2 linked regions of the Homo sapiens genome follow. The protein of the gene in region 1 purifies or fractionates together with the protein of each later gene. This does not show direct contact. Each region holds a gene or a part of one and is shown in the gene's direction. Other genes may lie near its edges.

The links.
Region 2: the proteins of PIP4K2C (region 1) and RIOK2 purify together in Homo sapiens (affinity purification with mass spectrometry; 2 studies listed by BioGRID and IntAct, with this or other methods). This does not show direct contact.

Annotation. Positions count from the first base shown.
Region 1 is NC_000012.12:57,594,190-57,601,210, forward strand, and holds part of PIP4K2C (phosphatidylinositol 5-phosphate 4-kinase type-2 gamma), read left to right. Parts: intron 1-936; coding exon 937-1,033; intron 1,034-1,698; coding exon 1,699-1,842; intron 1,843-3,768; exon of another isoform or gene 3,769-3,870; coding exon of another isoform or gene 3,871-3,873; intron 3,874-4,875; coding exon 4,876-5,022; intron 5,023-5,210; coding exon 5,211-5,249; intron 5,250-5,562; coding exon of another isoform or gene 5,563-5,613; exon of another isoform or gene 5,614-5,628; intron 5,629-6,134; coding exon 6,135-6,248; intron 6,249-6,621; coding exon 6,622-6,889; intron 6,890-7,021. UniProt on the Homo sapiens protein: Phosphatidylinositol 5-phosphate 4-kinase with low enzymatic activity. May be a GTP sensor, has higher GTP-dependent kinase activity than ATP-dependent kinase activity. PIP4Ks negatively regulate insulin signaling through a catalytic-independent mechanism.
Region 2 is NC_000005.10:97,180,243-97,188,262, reverse strand, and holds the start of RIOK2 (serine/threonine-protein kinase RIO2), read left to right. Parts: upstream 1-5,015; 5' UTR 5,016-5,071; coding exon 5,072-5,137; intron 5,138-8,020. UniProt on the Homo sapiens protein: Serine/threonine-protein kinase involved in the final steps of cytoplasmic maturation of the 40S ribosomal subunit. Involved in export of the 40S pre-ribosome particles (pre-40S) from the nucleus to the cytoplasm.

The DNA of each region.
Region 1 (7,021 bases):
TTTCAGTGAGTTGAAAATTTAACATCCTTCCCAAATGCAGAAATTAGTTTTGTGCAAGGAAACCATGAGAATAATTTCTGGTGTTCCCTATATCCTTATATGAATCAGTGTTATCTCTCCTCTAGCCTGGCAATTCCATAGAGTAAATATGTACAGATACCATTACCTGCTCTTTCTCTCTTTTTCTGCTTGTGACCTTGGAGATGCCATGAGAACCATTAGCTTCTGACAGGGACTCCTTGAAAGAAAAACTTGAATTCTCTACTAAGCCCTCCTAGGAAAAGAAGATGCCATTCAAAACAGTGGTGTCTGTTGCTGACTTTAGAATGCTTCTGACTTGCTTGAGATTTGGGAAATGCTGCTGTTTGGATGGGTAGTAGATCCTGGCTCTACTATACCACTTACCAACCATGTTACTTAGGCAGGTCACTGAATCACTCTGAGACAGTCTCCTCTTCTATAAAATGGAAATAATATGTTTTTATAGGACCTCACAAGGGCCAGGCGTGGTGGCTCATGCCTGTAATCCCAGCAGTTTGGGAGGCCAAGGCGGGTGGATCACTTGAGGTCAGGAGTTCGAGACCAGCCTGCAAACATGGCAAAACCCTATCTCTACTAAAAATACAAAAAATTAGCCAGGCATGGTGGCGCATGCCTGTAGTCCCAGCTACTTGGGAGGCTGAGGCAGGAGAATTGCTTGAACCCGGGGGATGGAGGTTGTGGTGAGCCGAGATTGCACCACTGCAGTCCAACCTGGCAACAGAGTGAGACTCTGTCTCAAAAAATAATAATAACAAATAAAAATTAAAAAAAAAGGACCTCACAGGGTTTTATGAGAATCAAATGAGGTAATATGTCTGAAGGTACTTTATAAACTACCAAGTGTATGTAAATGTAATATTGTTTGTTTTCTTACTTTGAAAACCTGAATTTCAGGGAAAATCTGCCCAGTCATTTCAAGTTCAAGGAGTATTGTCCCCAGGTCTTCAGGAACCTCCGTGATCGATTTGGCATTGATGACCAAGATTACTTGGTGAGAGTCCATTAAGGGGTGAGGGTAGCCCTTTCTCCCCAGCAACTGAGGAGTACTATTTGGGACAGCCATATTTGGAGAAATGAGAGTCTTGGCAAATATAATTCTTTACCTTTTTGTGATTGCAGCATTTTCAAAAATTTAATGAAAATTATAAACCTTGTCCTTGGGGGAAAAGATGTAGATACATTAAGAATTTTGGCCAGGCGCTGTGGCTCACGCCTGTAATCCCAACACTTTGGGAGGCCGAGGCGGGCAGATCACCTGAGGTCAGGAGTTCGAGACCATCCTGGCCAACATGGCAAAACCCTGTCTCTACTAAAGATATGAAAATTAGCCAGGTGTGGTGGCGCACGTCTAGTCCCCGCTACTTGGGAGGCTGAGGCAGGAGAATCACCTGAACTTGGGAGGCGAAGGTTGCAATGAGCTGAGATCGTACCACTACACTCCAGCCTGGGTGACAGAGCGAGACTCCTTGTCAAAAAAAAAAAAAAAAAAGAATTTTGCATTCAGTTTCCTTCAGTCCACATATGGACACCTGATGAGGAACTGTGCTGAATCTCCTACCCCAGGGATTCATCCACTTTCAGCTGACCATTTTCCTATGACTTGTTTCTGCATATAAAGAGGGAGGAAAAGAGCTCTGGCCTATTCTGTGTCCCCAGGTGTCCCTTACCCGAAACCCCCCCAGCGAAAGTGAAGGCAGTGATGGTCGCTTCCTTATCTCCTACGATCGGACTCTGGTCATCAAAGAAGTATCCAGTGAGGACATTGCTGACATGCATAGCAACCTCTCCAACTATCACCAGGTCAGGCCTCTCTCTAGCCCCATTCTTTCCCTCTCCTCCCTACTCACATATAGCTCAGCTATTGTCAGTAATAGATGCCAACTGGGGAGAAAACTCATTGGAAGAGAGAATCCATAATCATATCCAGCCCTAAATGGGATGAGGGAAGCTATTCTGTCTGATAAGATTTACAGGCTGGGGGCAGTGGCTCACACCTGTAGTCCCAGCACTTTGGGAGGCTGAGGCGGGAGGATCACCTGAGGTCGGGAGTTCGAGACCAGTCTGACCAACATGGAGAAACCCCGTCTCTACTAAAAGTACAAAATTAGCTGGGCATGATGGCTCATGCCTGTAATCCCAGCTGCTCAGGAGGCTAACGCAGGAGAATCACTTGAACCCGGGAAGCGGAGGTTGTAGTGAGCCGAGATCGTGCATTTGCACTTCAGCCTGGGCAACAAGAGCAAAACTCCGCCTAAAAAAAAAAAAAAAGATTAAAAAAAAAAAGATTTACTTGGAATGTGGAGTTTATGGAATGTTTTGGCAGTAAAAACACTCTTCTTGAACATCTCTACTGAAGAAAAATTTCACCAAAATCAGTGAGCAAGGAATACATCAGAGTCCAAAAGGAGTCTTTGGTTTATGCAACAAATATTGAATACCTCTTATTAGGCCCTATGTTAGGCAGTAGAGTAGGAGGTAAATGAAACATCTGTGGCCCTTACAGATCCCTTGGTCTGATGGCAGTGACCAGTGACCCAGTATTAGCACACCGCAAGATATATACAATAGTAGAAGTCTGTACAGAATATTCTGAAGCTAGTGAAGAGCATCCGAACTCACCTGGGGAAGGAAATGCACCTGGGAGGCTAAAGAGAGTTTTTTAGAGGAGATACTGTAAGAGTTGATCCTTGAAGGACTAGTAGAGGTTAACCATTGGACAGGGTGGAAGAGCATTCTAGGCAAAGGAAAACAGCACTTGTAAGGCACAGAGCCATGAGAGAACTTGGTGTTAGAAAACAGCAAGAAATTCCATTTGGATGGGATGTAGTACTGTGGAAATAGGCAGGAGCCAGATTGTAAAGAGGCTTATAAGCCCCACAAAGAAGTTTGGACTTTATCCTGAAGGTGGTTTTGCAAGGGGCGTGATATATTTGTTATTTAGAAATATTTAGAAAATGTGACAGCGTTTTAGAGAATGGATTGGTGGGAGGGAACACTGGAAGGGTGGATACCAGTTAGGAGGTAATTTTAATAGTCCAGGGTAGAAACAATGAAGGCCTGGGGGAGCGATGGTGGTGGGGATAGAAAGGAAGACCTATGGGAGAACTGAGAGTTAAGACACAGGGGCCTCCAAGTTCCTGGTTAGGGATAACTGGGTGCCTATTCACCAGAAATTAGAAACAGAGGAACAGGTTTTTGGAGGAAGAAAGTTCTGATTTGGACATACTGAATTTGAGGTTTCTGCAATTCATCCAGATGAGGATGTCCAGTAAGTGGTTGGGGTATGTGTACAGAATTCAGGAAAGAGGATTAGACTGGGAGTATAGGTTTGAGAATTATATGTGAGTAAGTGATCATTAAAACCATGGCTATAGATACGATTATTGTAGGGAGGTTGTGTGCAGTGAAATGAAAAGAAGGTTGAGGACAGAACCTAAAGGAACAAGTGAAGAAATGAGCCCATAAAGGAAACTAAGAGTAGATGGACACTTTTAATTATTTATGCCATGCTACATTCCATACGGGATTCGACGACAGAGAGGAGGGGAATCAGGAGGGTGGTATAATAAGAGCTGAGGATGAGGAGACTTTTAAGGAGAGACTGGTCAATAGGATCAAGTGCCACAAAGCTGAAATATGACAATGACTAGAATACTTACTAGATTTGACAACTGAGGGATATGGGGGAGATTTCAGAGGAGAAATGAGGTATAAACCTGATTTCAGTGATTCAACGTGTGAATGAGAGACAGGAAATGGATTTCTTGCTGATTACTTTCCTGAGAAGGTTGGCTGTGAAGAGAAAGAGGCAGCAACACAGAAAGAGAGATGGTAAGCACTGAAGGAGTAATTTTTGTTTTTTAGAGACAGGATCTCACTGTGTTCCCCGGGCTGGTCTCAAACTCCTGGGCTCAAGCGATCCTCCTGCCTCAACCTCCCAAGTAGCTGGGATTACAGGTGTGAGCCTGGCTTAACAGGAGAATTTTTAAAAAAGAATCCAAATTGTAGGCCGGGTGCAGTGGCTCACGCTTGTAATCCTAGCACTTTGGGAGGCCGAGGTGGGCAGATTGCCTGAGTTCAGGAGTTCGAGACCAGCCTGGGTAACACAGTGAAACCCCGCTTCTACTAAAATACAAAAAATTAGCTGAGCGTGGTGGTGTGCGCCTGTACTCCCAGCTACTCGGGAGGCTGAGGCAGGAGAATTGCTTGAACCTGGGAGGAGGCGGGGGTTACAGTGAGCCTAGATTGTGCCACTGCACTTCAGCCTGGGCAACAGAGTGAGACTCCATCTCCAAAAAAAAAAAAAAAAAAAATCCAAATTGTAGGCCATCATGCAGACTTTTTTTTTTTTTTAGGTATAAAAATCTGTATTTATATTACAGTGACAGAATGACACAGCACAGCCCAACCCAATGCAGACATTTTAAATTATGGGAATCTAGCCTATGAAGAAACACTGCTCTAGATAAAATGATTTCATTGATAAGATATAAGTTGTAATCCTGGTTCTGTGCCACTTGCATATAGAAAGGGTCTAAAATAAGGATAATAACACTTAACCTTCCTCATCTCAAAGAATGATAAAGGTGAATTGAGAGATGACACTTAAAAATTAAGAGATGTACAAATGGAAGGAATCAGAGGAAAGGGGGATTCAGAAACGGCATGGATAACCTGGAGTGTTTTGGGGAAGCTTCCACCACTTTTGACTTTGTAATCTCTCTACTTGAAGTCCTCTGCTCTACCCTGGAATGGCAGTGTTTGAACTTCCCTGGGCTGTTTGTGTATCTGCTACTCAGCCTCTCCCCATTCCTTCCCCCTCTTTCACTGTAGTACATTGTGAAGTGCCATGGCAACACGCTTCTGCCCCAGTTCCTGGGGATGTACCGAGTCAGTGTGGACAACGAAGACAGCTACATGCTTGTGATGCGCAATATGTTTAGCCACCGTCTTCCTGTGCACAGGAAGTATGACCTCAAGGTAAGAAGAGGGTAGCTCGGACTTAGAGGGAGGCTCCTGATAGCCTGAGAATGGGGAAGACCCTGGGAGGTCTTTGGATGATTCCTTTTAAGGGAAAGAAGGCTGGGTTTGAGTACTCATCTTAGGGGCTGGGTTCTGACTGTTCTTTTAGCCACTTCTACTGACTTGGTGTTTGGGTCTTTCTGCAGGGTTCCCTAGTGTCCCGGGAAGCCAGCGATAAGGAAAAGGTGATAGTAATTTTATGTGCTAGGGTGAGGGATGAGGGATGAGGGAGGGCAGATGAGGGGAACTTCTTAGGATGGAGAGGCCACTCTATATAGGAATAGGGATTACTAGCTATTTATTATCTTAAACCACTTAAAAGAAGGGGGTAAACTTCTGTTGATCCGGGGATTGTTTGGAAGGGGCAGTGGGAGCAGCTGCTTTAACACTGGCATGGGTTATTCCATATGGAAGGCTTGGGGATGGGTGAGGTTGCCAGACTTGAAGAGCAAAGTGTTTAACTTCCACTTCCCATTCTGGGTTATTTTATTCAAGCAGCTACTTTTGCTTAAGAAGACACAGGCCGGGCATGGTGGCTTATGCATGTAATCCCAGCACTTTAGAAGGCCAAGGCAGGACTGCTTGAGCCCAGGAGTTCCAGACCAGCCTGAGCAACGTAATCTCTACCAAAAACACAAAAATTAGCCGGGCGTGGTGGCACGCGCCTGTAGTCCCAGCTACTTGGGAGGCTGAGGTGGGAGAATCACTTGAGTCCAGGAGGTCGCGGCTACAGTGAGCTGAGATCACACCACTTACATTCCAGCCTGGGCAACAGAGTGATCGAGATCCTATCTCAAAAAAAAAAAAAAAAAAAAAGAGGAGAAAGAAAAGTCAGCCTGGAGGGTCTTGGCTAAAAACCATAAGCAGAGAGTAGTGGGATGTGATTTGGGATACAGCTGTAGTGACTGAGTCTGTGGAAGTCACTGGAGGTGAGAACAGACCAGGGAAGCATCACAGTGTGGAGTTAGATGAGATCTAACTGAGCTAGCATAGAGCCCTAGACAGAAGGTGGGGTTCTGAGACCTTGGGGAAGGGATATGTTCCCAAGATGTCCCTTTACATATTCTTAGGTTAAAGAATTGCCCACCCTTAAGGATATGGACTTTCTCAACAAGAACCAGAAAGTATATATTGGTGAAGAGGAGAAGAAAATATTTCTGGAGAAGCTGAAGAGAGATGTGGAGGTGATGATTGGGTGCTCTGGGAAATGGCTTTCCTTTTTTTGCTCCCTAGAGGGTAGTTGTCTCTTTCATTCACGGTATGAGGGAGCTCCTCCCCTTCCCTTTATTCTTCAGGTCCTCTGCCTATATGGGGGTTTAGTATGAGACATGAAAAACCCCTGGAGCTGACCCGTGGAAGGGGTGGCTGGAATAAGCTAAAAGGATGATCTTAGATACTAGGACATATAGGCACTAAAGGCAGTGGTATGCCCTGCAACCTCAATTTTTATACTTCCTTTCCCCAGAAGGGCCCCAGAAATTCAAAGGTACAGGTACAGGGGTGATACCTAGCAGTGAAGAGTGAGAGAGAGGTGTCTGATTTGTCAGTGGGTCTCAGTTTCTAGTGCAGCTGAAGATCATGGACTACAGCCTTCTGCTAGGCATCCACGACATCATTCGGGGCTCTGAACCAGAGGAGGAAGCGCCCGTGCGGGAGGATGAGTCAGAGGTGGATGGGGACTGCAGCCTGACTGGACCTCCTGCTCTGGTGGGCTCCTATGGCACCTCCCCAGAGGGTATCGGAGGCTACATCCATTCCCATCGGCCCCTGGGCCCAGGAGAGTTTGAGTCCTTCATTGATGTCTATGCCATCCGGAGTGCTGAAGGTGAGAGAACCGGGACAATTTAAGGGTGGAGAGGGGATTTTTCCTGGAGGACAGAGACCAGAGTGCTGGGGGAGAGCCTGATTAGCTTTTCAGAACAAAACTGACTGCTTCCTGGAGAAAGGGAATTGGAAC
Region 2 (8,020 bases), on another chromosome or scaffold:
AATATTCTTGGTCCTTAAGGATACACAGAAGAGAGTGATTCTCAACCACAAAGAAATGAAGGTGACGGGGTCTGTGATGGGGACTTAAATGAACAAGAGGTTTAGAAACACTAATTCAAGTCTATCCCCTTCATAATACAAATAAAGAACCTATGACCCATTAGACCTATAAACTTCTTGAGTAAAGGAACTGAGTTTTGTCTACCAAAATGCATTGTAAACATTCAAAATAAAAACTTGTTTGAATGAGTGAAATTAAAGGCATACCCAAGATCAAAAACTAGTTAGTGTCAGAGTTAAGCCAATGATAATATCTCTCAGTTGGAGGTCTTATTTTGCCTATCCCACCTTTATGGAAGGGTCCCATTATCACTATGCTGAAGGCCCAGAAAAACACTGGTGAAGGTGGACTTTCACACGAAGCCGACTCTGTACTGCAGAGTGGCATGTGGGAATATTAATACAGAGTGCTCTTATGATCAACTCTTTAAGAAGAGCAGGGAAAGAAGTAGGATTAGGCAAAGGAAAAAGTTTAACTGTGGTGTAGTACCAAAGGAGGCCTCGAGGCTTTTGACTCGAAAGCAGGGGTCCCCAACCCCCAGGCCACGGACCAGTTCCTTTACTCACATTTCTTGTGCACACCCATATATCCTTTCTCATACCCCTCTACCTCAGACATCCTTGTTCCCAATCTACTAATTCTTCTTCCAAGTCCCTTTCCAACCAGCCAAGCCATTCACCCTTCCCCATGAGTCCATGTATATTTTAACCTGGGGCTATTTCTCTTACTACACAAAGTGAATGATGAAGTGCACCTTCCAAAGATCTGCCCATCAGGAGGATATTCCCTGATCACTTCTCTTTCAAGGACACACAAATAGAGCTGTAGTTCAACTACAAAATCAAACTGACCCATCCGTGAATCTAATGTGGGCTTTTTTTGCTTCACCAACTGATCAAAGGTATCACCCATGGAGATATAAGTTGAGGGAAAGGCACTTGGGCAATGGTAGTGGATGACATGAAAGAGTCCAGTCCACCTGCTCATGCAGCTTGCACCCTCTGGTCCTGCTTGTGTTCACTCCTGCACGTACCACTTTCATCTTAGGATAGATCATTACTGAACAACTGTGACCCCGATGTCACCTGTGTGATATCTCAGCGCCAAGCAACACATCTCTCCCAGGGCTCTGCAGCACGCCAGGAGCTATTTTTCAAAAGGTATATAAATCTCTGCTGTGTATTCTGAACATGCTTCTGAATTCAACAAGTTTGTGTTGTGAGTCTCCCATTGAAACTTGCCATAAACTCCACACATCCCTATCTTCCATTCTGTGTCTTTTTCCACCACTGATATCCCTTATATGCAAATGTATGGCGCTACCACCCATATGCAGTAAAATCTATCATAATTTTTTCTGAGTTTTAGCTAGTATAATATCTTAAATGTAAATATACAAAATTTCTTTTTCTTGAATCTATGCTTTAAATTCAGTCTCCACATTCAACTTTTTCTGTAATTAACCTAACCTATGGGCAAGCAGGAGAGGTTAAAAAGTGGCCAGAATCATTAAAGACAACAGGCTACAGAAGATTAGAGGGAGGAGCACTTACTTCCCTTTGAGAGTGTGAGAGGTTGAATGATGACCCATCCAAAAATATCCACATACTAATTTCTAGAACCTAAGAATTTATCCTATATGGAAAAAAATATTTTACAGATGTTATTAAGGGTCTGAGTGGATCCTAAGTGCAATTACATGTATTTGTATAAGACAGAGACAGAAGGAAACACACACACTCACGAGTAGAGAAGGCAATAACGTAAGCATGGAGACAGAGACTGGAGTGATGTGCCACAAGCCAAAAGAATGCCAGCAGTCACCAAATCCCAGTAGGAGCTGCAAAAGGCAAGGAACAAATTCTCCACTAGAGCCCCTCTTGGGGGAACATGGTCCTGTCAACACGTTGATTTTGACCCAGTAAAAATAATCTCTTATTTCCAGCGTCCTGAACTGTAAGAGAATAAAGTTCTATTGTTTTAAGTCGTCAAAGTTTGCGGTAATATGTTAACAGCAGCAAGAGAAAATTAATATAGAGATAAATAGGAATAATAAAGAAAAACCTTATGTGGTGAATAGAATTTTAATGGTAGATAAGATTTACATATATTGTGATTGAAAAAGAAGAAAAACAGTAGGGAAGAGGTAATATTACAGGTGGAGGGAAAAGTATTACAGGTGAAGGGAAAACTTAGTAAAAAAGAAATTTAAGGGAGTTATACAGGGAAAACAAAAGTAGTTCAATTAGACAAGAGTACAAACTGCTTGAAGATGGTGATACAGATTGTTGACAATCCTGAATGCCAGTCTAAACGTGCACTTTGATCTGTAGACAGTTAAGGTTCTCTGCAACTTGTAAGGACAGGGTCAGGGCAGGGGAGGTAAGGGAGGAGGAAACACCAACATGATACACCTTTTGCACATCTGTGTCACACTACTCTCTATTTTTCTACTCTTCACCCTCCAACACAGGTATGAGGGTTGAGATTGATTCCCCAGGACCTAGTAAAAAAGTATGGCATATATGTTTGATGAATAGTGAATGCATTAACGAATAATACTGTACATGTTTTGTTTTACTCATCACTAAGCATGGTATGAGGGAGTAGAACAGAATACCAAACTGCACTTCAATCACTTACTTTTACTCTTCAAAGTTCTGATTATTAAAATGATTTTATTTTAAAAGTAATATTCCAAATATAAGAGATTTGGACTTAATGTGATTAACCGTAAGGCATACTTCAGAACACCAATAGCAATTCTAGTCAATTCCACTCAGTTAATGGTGGCTGTCTGAGGCAATGTTGAGAAATAATGTAAGAATTACACCATAATAGATTAGGAACATTTGCTAAAGTGCTGGATTCGGAGTAGAAACATAAATGGCTTGTTTCCCATTCCATTCTTGCTCTAGAAGTTAGTTATTTGCATACAAATGGCCAACAGGTACATGAAAAATTGCTCAACATCACTAAGTATATAAGAAATGAAAATCAAAGCCATAATGAGATATTATCTTACCCCAGTCCAAATGGCTACTGTTAAAAAGACAAAAAATAATGGATGTTGGTGAAGATGCGGAGAAAAGAGAACTCTTATACACTGTTGATGAGAATGTAAATTAGTACAGCCACTGTGGAAAAGTATATGGAGATTTCTCAAAAAATTAAAAATAGAATTATTCAATCCAGCAATCCCACTATTGGGTATCTACCCAGAGGAAAGAAATCAGTATATCAAAGGGATACCTACACTTGCATGTTTATCGCAGCACTATTCACAATAGCAAAGCTATGGAATCAACCTAAGTGTCCATCAACAGATGAATGGATAAAGAAAATGTGGTATATATACACAATGGAGTACTATTCAGACATAAAAAATGAAATCTTGCCATTTGCAGTAACGTGGATGGAGCTGGAGGTCATTATCTTAAGGGAAATAAGCCAGGAACAAAAAGACAAATATCACACGCTCTTACTTATATGTGGAAGCTAAAAAATTTGATCACATTAAGGTAGAGAGTGGAAAGACAGATAACAGACTGGGAAAGATGAGGGGAGTGGGAACAGGATGAAGAGAGTAGGTTAAAGGTTACAAACATGGAGTCAGATAGAAGGAATATATTCACTGCTTGATAGTAGAGTAGGGTAACTATAGTTACACAAAAATATATTGTATTTGGATGACAGACACCCTAAATACTTGTAACAAAATTTCTCACGTACCCCATAAATTTGTACAAATAAAGTTAGTCACTTGGTTTTTTTAAAAACTTTTCGCCCAGGCGCGGTGGCTTATGCCTGTAATCCCAGCACTTTGGGAGACTGAGGGGGGCGGATCACCTGAGGCCAGGAGTTTGAAACCAGTCTGGTCAACAGGGCGAAACCCCATCTCTACTAAAAATAAAAATATTAGCAGGGCGTGGTGGTGTGAGCCTATAATCCCAGCTACTTAGGAGGCTGAGGGAGAAGAATCCCTTGAACCTAGAGGGCAGAGGTTGCAGTGAGCCAAGATCGCGCCCCTGTACTTCAGTCTGGGTGACAGAGCCGGGCTCTGTCTCAAAAATAAAAAAAAAATTCATTTCTATGCCTTCTTATGTAAGTACAGAAAGAAAAATTCCGTTTAAATGGAGATGTTCATTGGTTGAAGATGGTTAATCAAAGACATGCTGCATTCAAGTAAAAAGCAGACAAAGGCTTGAATATCGAGGAGTTGCAGAGCCAGTATGGGTAACTATTCTAAAATCCTTAAATCGCTCCTGGGCCCTCGAAGTCCTACCCGCGTAGGTCAGCCCGAACTATCAAAATCCCCACTTCCTCTGGAGGTAAGGACGTCCGCCGCGCTCTCCACGTGTCACCTTAAACTCCCACCCCAACCAGCGCAGGCGCACTTCGAAGCCTCCTAGACCAACCTAAGAGAAGTACTGAGCAAGCGCATGAGTTCCATTAACCACGCCCTCCGGAGCTGCCGGAGCAGGCGCAATTAGGAGTAGAGGGCGTGCTTGTGTGATTACAGTCCACTTTACCTTTAACAGATTTGGTTGTCTGGACTCTAGCTCAGGTTCTTTTACCCCTGTCTTGTTGGAAGTCACTTTGCCTAGAGTAGAAGTTGTTTGCGGGAAAAATTTGCTCCTCCCATTAAGTAACCACTTTGCTCTCTGAGGCGGAACGTGTCATTGAGGCAGCAAGTCCTGACAGATATGGAAAAAAAAAGGCACATTGTAGAGAATATCTACACTCCGCCAACTCAGTCACAACGCAAAAATTACACAAAAATAAAACGTTCACTTGTTACATACTATGTGTTTCATAAGACATACAAGTAGTTTTATTTTCCTATATCAATGAGAACAGCACTTCTAACTATTAACAAGGACCTATACTAAGACGCAGCGCGTGCGCGAGCCATCTGGCGCTGTAAAGCGCTTAGAGGCTGGAATAACGACCTGCCTTACGCTTTGCGGCTGTCGTCGGAGAGGCATCTGGGTTCGGACTGGGGCCGCCATGGGGAAAGTGAATGTGGCCAAGTTGCGTTACATGAGCCGAGATGACTTCAGGGTCTTGACCGCGGTAAGAAACCCGCCGTTCCTGTTCTCCCTTCCCCTTAACACTGTGTGACCTCTTCCTGTTCCTGCAAGTTTTCTGGGATCTGAGCAGGCACACTCTGGGACCCGGGACGTGGCAGAAGCTGGGAATGGAGAAGAGAGCATTCAGAAAGTCGGATTTTTAAAAAGGTTTTGTTTGGGAGCTTACCTTCCCCCAGATAGAGCAAAGGTCCCGTCTTCTAATAATTGTTTTCTTTTCTGCTGCTATTCGCTTTGCGCTGAAGAGAAACGCTTGCATCTCTGTGGCCTGGAAACTTCTCTGATCCTGAGCTTCCGACCAGCTGTGAAAGGTTTAAGCCCCCCCCCCCCCCCGAGATTTGATAATATTGACTTCCCTACTAACAGACTCAGTCGCATAGCAGTCTTTCTGATTCATTCAGTCAACACATATTTGTCGGTTTTTTAGTAGCAACATTAGGAGGTTCACTTGTTCAAACAGACAAGTGGAGAGAGAGACACAGATCATCAAGTAAACGAAAAATAGGATAATGGATAAATGCTATGAAAATGATAAAGGATAATGGCATAGAAAGTATATGTATCTGGTGGAGAGGAGGGGCACAAGTTATTGGCCTTTGGTAGACAATCAATAAATATTCACTAAATGAAAGAATGAATGGGGGAATAATAGGAGCTGTGTGAGAAAGAGACAGCCCAGTGAAGTCCTTGGAAAGAGTTGGAGGCAGAGGAAACAGCAGTAGTAAGTGCAAAGGCCTTGAGACAGAAAAGTCTTTGAAGAGAGGAAAGGCCAATGTAATGTGGCTGGAGCAAAGTGAGATGCACACTAATGGTTGGAGATGTAGCGGAAAAGGTGAGAAATTATGTACTACAGAGCCTTGGAGGTTTGGTAAAGAATGTGGGGGTAACCACTAAATGTTTTTAATCAGGGGAGTAACAAAATCTGATTTTATGGCCTCAGTCTTATGGCACAGAAATTAATATATAGATCAAGACATTTGTACATTTATTTAGGAGCCGTTATCTTTTGGTAAGGAGTGAACCCCATGATAAGGACTACCTATATTGTGTAATTATGTAATAGGATATGCGATGTGAGTCACACTGGTTCTTGCATTATGTTAAGGCTTCAAGTTTTGGATTTTTAAAATTAATCTTAAATAGCGCTTAAGTATTAAACTATCAAATGCAAAATCAGTGTGAAATTTGGAAGACAATGTTTACTTTGCCTCTCATGTAGATTCTTCTAATCAGCTGGACTTTCTCTATGAAAACCTACTATCACTTCGGAAAGATACCTTCCTTTCCTGCTTTCTCAGCACACTCATTCCTTAGTGTCTCTGACAGAAGTAGGGGTCAAAAGTAAGAGTGTTAGAGGACGGGGGAGGCAGAGACAAAGCATGGAAAATAAGTTAAATTTAAAAGTTAAGGTTTTGGTGAGACATCAAAATGATGCCAGATTTATCTTCCAAAACATTGGCGCTGCAATATTTAAATTATTTGTAAAGTTCACCAAGAAATGACTTAGTCATTAAATATGACATTCCGGTCTCAGTTGAATCTCACCAGTGTTGGTACCCTTTCTTGGGCCTCTCTTCCCTTTTACTTCTTTGGCTCCTCCTATATCAATAATCATTGTTTGACTAGCTGCCCTTAGCTTTCAATATGAACTTGCCCCAGAATTCTGCTCCCAAACATTCCTTTTCTTCCATTATCTCCTGCTCAGTGATAGCATCCACTTCACATCTTCAACTCTCACTTCTATAAAATAATTGACAATTTTTCCTTCTAATTATAACTTCATTCCTAAATATAGGCCCCTTTCCTATTTAATTTTCTCTCTTTCTTTTTTTTTTTTTTTTGAGACGGAGTCTTATTCTGTTGCCAGGCTGGAGTGCAGTGGCACAATCTCAGCTCACTGCAACCTTCACCTTCTGGGTTCAAGCGATTCTCCTGCCTCAGCCTCCCAAGTAGCTGGGACTATAGGCGCACACCACCACGCCCAGCTAATTTTTGTATTTTTAGTAGAGATGGGGTTTCACCATGTTGGCCAGAATGGTCTCGATCTCTTGACCTCGTGATCCACCCACCTTGGCCTCCCAAAGTGCTGGGATTACAGGTGTGAGCCACTGCACCTGGCCTCCAGTTTTCCTTTAAACATTTTTATTTGACTCTCAGTGCTCAAACCAAATTCAATTTTTTTCTACCCCCTTTCTCTTTTCCCAAGCTCTATAAAAAAAAAAAATAATAAAATCTTAAAACTTGCTTTTCCTCATCACTTCCAATTGTGGCTTTCCGTTCCCTTTACCCTTCCACATCTAATTGCCAAGCTCTCCCATAATACTTCCTAAAGATTTTTATTCCTTCCTTCCAGTACCACTACCACTTACCCTGTTCTGGTGGCTCTTTCCTCTGAGCTGGACTTCTGTCTTAGTTCTCCGGAGTACCCCCTCAGATTTTGCCATCTCTAAGCCAATTTGCATATTCCTGGTACATTAATGTCCTTAAAATAACCCTGTTCGTGTGTCTCCCACGCCTAAACATCTTCAAGAGCTTCCTGCTCTCATCAGGATAAAATATAAAAGTATTTGGTCTACATTTTAATGCCTTCTCTATCCTAGAAGTATCTTCCAGCCGCGTTTGCATGAATTCTATATGCTATCCCATCTGAGCTGCTACTGTACTCAGCTATTCTCTGTGGTCAGTACTTTCTTGCATATGTGCCATTTTCAAATCTTTTTCTTTCACTAATATCCCCTTGTCTGTTTTCTCTGTATGCCCACATCTTTTAAAAGTCAGTCTCTAGTTTTGCATCTTCCTTGGAACTGATCCCTCAGCTAGAAGTATTCTTATTCTGCCCTGAGCTACCTTTTTAAGCACTTATCACTTC